Linked DNA regions of Homo sapiens: region 2 is linked to region 1. Evidence: fine-mapped expression QTL. Tissue or cell type: blood mononuclear cells. Region 1 holds a variant in brackets; the other region holds the start of a gene. All regions are shown on one strand. Distances are from middle to middle. Region 1 overlaps SHISAL2A (shisa like 2A). Region 2 holds the start of SHISAL2A (shisa like 2A).

Region 1 (3,014 bases):
TTTTATCTAGAAAGACAGAAATGTTCAATTGTGTCAAATGCTCCTGATTAAAAAAAGAAAAAGGAAAAAAGAATCAGAGTCCTATAACTGGTAAAGTAAAATTTAAAATAAATAAATAATGTTAAATGTTCCTGATAAGGGAGATAAGGATTTAGAAGTGACTATGGGTTTAGTGACAAATAGTTTGAAGGTATAGTGGGGGCAGAACAAAGTAAGTTGCAGCTGAACAAGTCATGAATGGAAGGTAGAGAATAATAAGGCCAAGTGGACTTCCTTTCAAGCTTTGATTTAAGAGGAAGAGAGAAGATAAGTCACTCAGCAAAGAGAAGCATGGAATCTATTCTCAAAGCGAGAACAATCTATGTTTTAAAAATGTCCACCACTCTTCTCCATACTAGCTGTATGGTAATCCTGTGTTCTCATCTATAAAATGGATTTCTAATAGTACCTACCTCATAGGGTTATGGTGAAGGTCAAGTCTTCATAGCTCTTAACAATTGTTTCTTATCTGTTTCCTCCACCAAACTACAAGTTCATGAGCAACACTGACAGCTCTCAGTGCATAATGTGGTGTATTGTTAATAAATACATGTTAAACAAATGATGCTTCTAAGGCTCTGACCACAGTGCACTGCCCAAGGTAAGCACCAGAGAAGTCAGCTGGGGAGTGTGATCCTGTTGGGGAAGAAGAGAGCCACACACCCTCAGTTTGCTGTTTTCCAGGCCCTGAGGAGGTTTCTCCTGACTGCCAAGGTGTGAACACAGGCATGGCGGCAGAAGTGCCAAAAGTGAGCCCTCTCCAGCAGAGTTACTCCTGCTTGAACCCGCAGCTGGAGAGCAATGAGGGGCAGGCTGTGAACTCCAAACGCCTCCTCCATCATTGCTTCATGGCCACAGTGACCACCAGTGACATTCCAGGCAGCCCTGAGGAAGCCTCTGTACCCAACCCTGACCTATGTGGACCAGTCCCATAAACATTCAATAAATGTCTCCATACCATCCCCTTCTGGAGTCTCTTCAGTGAAAGGTGGGAGTGGGAAAGGACTTTAGAGCCTAGCATGATAAATGAGGGCTTCTCCCAGCAAAGATACCCAGCCCTGCTGTGGACCCTGCCATACTGTTCTGCTTGGCCTATTGTGGGCCAAAGAACTTTGACATGACTCCTAGGAAAAATGGTCAGTAACAACTCCATGCAATCGGGTGGAAGCCTGGGGCCTGTGAAGGCACAGAGGAGCCCCTCACCCAACTGGGAAGTCAGAGAACTCTGACATGGTTTTCCTGCCCCACAGTAGGTGTATTTAGGAGCCCCTGAGAAGATGATTAGCCCTCAGAGGGGGATGATCTCTGCCTCTTCAGCAGCTCTGCCTCACCCTGGAGTGCGCCATCCTGGAGTAAGCCCCTTGCAGAGGGACGGATAGAGAGGGAGTATGTTGTGCACAGGGCTCAGGCGTCATTCTATTTCTTAGGTAGATGAAGGAGTGAGTGCTAAGTGAGAGAATGAATAGGGGCAGGGCGCGGCAGTTCA[C/T]GCCTGTAGTCCTAGAGCTTTGGGAGGACAAGGTGGATGGATCACTTGAGCCCACTTATTCAAGACCAGCTTGGGCAACACAGTGAGACCCAGACTCTACAAAAAATTTAAAAATTAGCCACATGTGGTGGCTTATACCTGTAGTTGCAGCTACTTGGGAGGCTGAAGCAGGAGAATCAGTTGAGCCCTGGAGGTCGAGGCTGCAGTGAGCTATGATCACACCACTGCACTCCAGCCTGGGCAAGACCTCATCACAAAAAAAGAAGAAGAATGAATGAATGAATGAATGGTTATCAGACTGAATACAGGCTCCAGAGGGTGGACTCTGCCACTGTGTGGCCTTGATAAAGTCCCTTGTCTTCCTGAGCCTCAGTCCCCTTGCTGGGTTATTGCAAGTGTTCAATGAGGTGATGGATTTGAACTCACTTCGTAAACATTAAATTACTAGAAGACTTTTTTTTTTTTTGAGACGGAGTTTTGCTCTGTCACTTAGGCTAGAGTGCAATGGCATGATCTCAGCTCAGTGCAACCTCCGCCTTCCGGGTTCAAGTGATCCTCCCACCTCAGCCTCCCAAGTAATTGGGACTACAGGTGTGTGCCACCATGCCTGGCTAATTTTTGTATTTTTAGTGGAGACGGGGTTTCACCATGTTGGCCAGGCTGGTCTTGAACTCCTGACCTCAAGTGATCCGCCTGCCTTGGCCTCCCAAAGTGCTGGGATTACAGATGTGAGCCACCACACCTGGCCTGTTAAAAGACTTTTTAAATGACCAATGGATGATAACATAGTATTCCTGCTAAAAGACTTTTTAAATTACAAATGGACAATAACAGTAAACTATGTAATACTGAACAACTCTGGAGCCAAATGCCTGGTTAAAATCCTGCCCCTGTCACTTACTTGCTAGGTAACCTCTGTGCCTCAGTCCTCTCATCTATATAAGCTGGAATCTTAGTAGTATCTTCTAATAGGGCTTGGGGAAGGACTAAATTACTAAGTCCATGCAAGTACATAGAAAAGTGTTGGCAAATGGAAAGCACTATGTGTTAGCTATTATTATTATTTTTAACATGTCTTATTATTAATCTGATCGCAAAGGAATCTTAGGGCAAGATGCTGACTGTCAGCCCTCCCTCCTGGCTGCTCTCCTAACTTTGGCGATGGCTTTTAGGCTTCGCCTTCGGAATGCAAGACAAGGACTGTGGAGACGCAGCTCAGCAGCCACCAAAAGCAGCTCTTGACATTTCAGACAGTGACATGACCTGCTGCTGGATTTGGCAACAGTGAAAGAGTCACTCTTAGATACCTGTGCCTGAGGCCAGCCAAAGGGTACATGATGGGGTGGCAAGACAGGGTGAGTCACCCACAGAAGTGTTCTAGGCTGGAAGTCAAGAGATTTTGGTTCTGGTCTTGCTTCATTTGTTGTTGTTGGTGGTGGTGGTGGTGGTGGTGTGTGTGTGTGTGTGTGTGCTCTTTTATTTCAGCATT
Region 2 (2,500 bases), 25 kb before region 1:
AGAGGGCTGTTGGGAGGAACAAATTAATTCTTGGCTGGGAGAGGGTTTTGGAAATTGTTGGAGGCTTTCTAGTTTTGCCAAAAGCCAGGGCAGAGCGCTTTCTTCCTCCCAGCTGATCTCCAGGCCTCCAGGAAGCCTCTCCCTCCCAGAGGATTCCTCCCCTGTACTCTCCATCTGATAAAGAGGCTGAAGTGCACCCTCATTAGTGTAGGCTCTCCAGCTCCCAGTCTGCTCAGACCCACAGCTCAGGGGAGGAATGTTCTGGAGGATAATAACAGTTCCCTCCAGCTTTCATATTTGACCTTACAGTGACTCTTGAGGACACCGCCTCCCTCAGAGCCCTCCCCTGCTTCCTCAGATGGTGCCCCTCTGTGTCCAGGTCCTTGCATTTCCCTTTTTACTGCCCTGTGCTGTGATCGTCAGTCAGTCTGACTCCTCCATCAGACTGTGTGTTTCTCAACGGCAGGCCCAGATCTGATCCCTCTCAGGGGCCCTAGGGCCCACCCAGGTCAGGGCAGCGGCACAATCAGCATCTGAGGAGCTGGCCTGGGTGAGGACAAGGAACCCAAAGCTCAGAGAGAAACAGCAGGGAAGGGGTAGAGCTGGGCTGGAGCCCAGATCCCCTGATACCCACGGCCCGTTCCCCACACGTCCAAACCAAGGGCGAAGGAATCGGGGGTGCCCGAGGCACCACAGTAACTATTTCCTACCCTACCCACTGCTGTGAAAAATGTAGAGCTAAGGCACTGAAGGTGCTGTATGAAGCCCTTCCAGATGGCGTAAGGCAACAGGGTACATGGGGGAAGCCAAGGCACTGAGAGCCCCTTCAGACTGTGGTTCTCTGATGCTAGTGAGAACACTGCCCTTGTTCTCTGGAAGTAATTTTTCAAAATGGACAGGTCTGCTGACTTTCTTTGCTGGTCAGTGTGGGGAAGGAGGTTACCGTCTGGGCCCATCCACACCCATATTCGGCTCCTTGTCCCAGGCCAGTGGCAGGCAGTATGAACAGAAGAGTGTGGACATTGTCCGTGCACGAGCTAGCTCTCAGCGAGACTAGCAGGGACTCCAGATGATGAGGACATCTAAAAGCCCGCTAGAAAAGAGGCACCATGAAAGCCGCAGAAAGAGCAAGGACTTCCTACTAGGCCGCCCCCGGTTAAAATCTCGTGGGCTTAGGAACTCCGGGAAATGGCTTCTCTCTGGCCCTCAGCTCTCACCTTTAACACGGATGCGAACATCCCCGGGCCCCTGGGTTTTTGCGGAGGTTGGGTGAGGTTGTGTTCACTCTCCTCACTGACCCCGCCGTGTGGTCGCCGGCTGGTGCCTTGTCTGTCTGCCCCAGCCCCGAATGCCCCGAGACTCCCGGCGCCGGCTCGGTGCAGGTAAGGCGCCCGCGCCCTGGCCTCGAATTCCCGCCCCGCCACTCTGGCCGCGTCGTGCTGTCGTTGCGCACCCAGCGCCCTCGTGCAGGCAGGGGGAGCGCAGTGGGGAGGGGGCAGGAAGCGCAGGCAGAGCCAGGCGAGCACGCGGCTCCCGGCCCAGCTCCCCGCGTCCGCTCCGGCTCCTGCCGCGTTCCAGCAGCCGTCACTCCCGCCGCCGGCCCCCGCCGCCCGCCCCGCCTGCCCCTACCCCTCCGCGCGGGCCGGGCACCTGGCCGCCGCTCGGTCCTCGGGGCCCCGCGCTGCTGTCTCTGTCTCGGCTTCTCTCGGCCCCTGGGTCTCTTCGTCTCTGCCGTTCTCAGGCTCAGCTCCGTCTCGCTCGGTCCCTCGCTTCCCCGCCGGGCTCTAGCCGGCCGTCTGGTGGCCCGAGGTGGCGGCGGGCTGGGCGCGGGGCGCGATGAGCGGCGCCTGCACGAGCTACGTGAGCGCAGAGCAGGAGGTGGTGCGCGGCTTCAGCTGCCCGCGGCCGGGGGGCGAGGCGGCCGCTGTCTTCTGCTGCGGCTTCCGCGACCACAAGTACTGCTGCGACGACCCGCACAGCTTCTTCCCCTACGAGCACAGCTACATGTGGTGGCTCAGGTACCGTCCCTGGCCCTCACCCTACCTTGAACCCCACTCCAGTCTCAGCGCCTTCACCCCAGCCTCAGCCCCCACCCGAGTGTCCACCTGAACATCAGCAGCAAGCTCTAGTCCTTACCGTCCTCATGCCCACAGCATCAACCACCCCGTGAAACCCCATCTCAGCTCGATTTCCTCATCCTGACCCCAACCATTATTTAGAGCCATGCTCGGACCTCCCCCTCCTCTAATCCAAAACAATCCTCACTCTATCCCCACCCCAAACTTCATTCCATCACCACCCTCATCCCAACCCCAAATCACATATCAAGCCTCCCCCTAACAGCAACTTCCATCTTCAAACATTCACAGGCAGCCCAACTCCACCCCAATCATCATCCCACCAAGGTGCCCTTCCTAATATCAACACCAGCCTTATTCCTGACTTTCCACACTCCCCAGTACTGACCCCAGACCTTATTCTATCACCAGCCCCAACCTCC

The links. PIP is the estimated chance that this variant, and not a neighbour inherited with it, causes the effect. A credible set is the group of variants that fine-mapping cannot tell apart.
Region 2: SHISAL2A starts here. The variant in region 1 is the best candidate, but not a certain one, in a credible set for the expression of SHISAL2A in blood mononuclear cells (TOPMed, PIP 0.62).

Annotation. Positions count from the first base shown.
Region 1 is chr1:52,656,067-52,659,080 of GRCh38, forward strand. SHISAL2A (shisa like 2A) reads left to right here. Exons shown (of 3, transcript NM_001042693.3): 3 at 724-999. The coding sequence ends at 974. Among named protein-coding and RNA genes, the nearest start is that of SHISAL2A, 24 kb to the left of the region's middle. The variant C/T (reference allele first, on the strand shown) is at 1,526.
Region 2 is chr1:52,631,658-52,634,157 of GRCh38, forward strand. It overlaps SHISAL2A (shisa like 2A), which reads left to right and starts at 1,511. Exons shown (of 3, transcript NM_001042693.3): 1 at 1,511-2,018. The coding sequence starts at 1,837. LOC124904178 (a long non-coding RNA gene) reads right to left here and starts at 1,798. Exons shown (of 2, transcript XR_007066084.1): 1 at 1,651-1,798. RefSeq lists silencers at 1,389-1,498, 1,589-1,778, 1,789-1,838.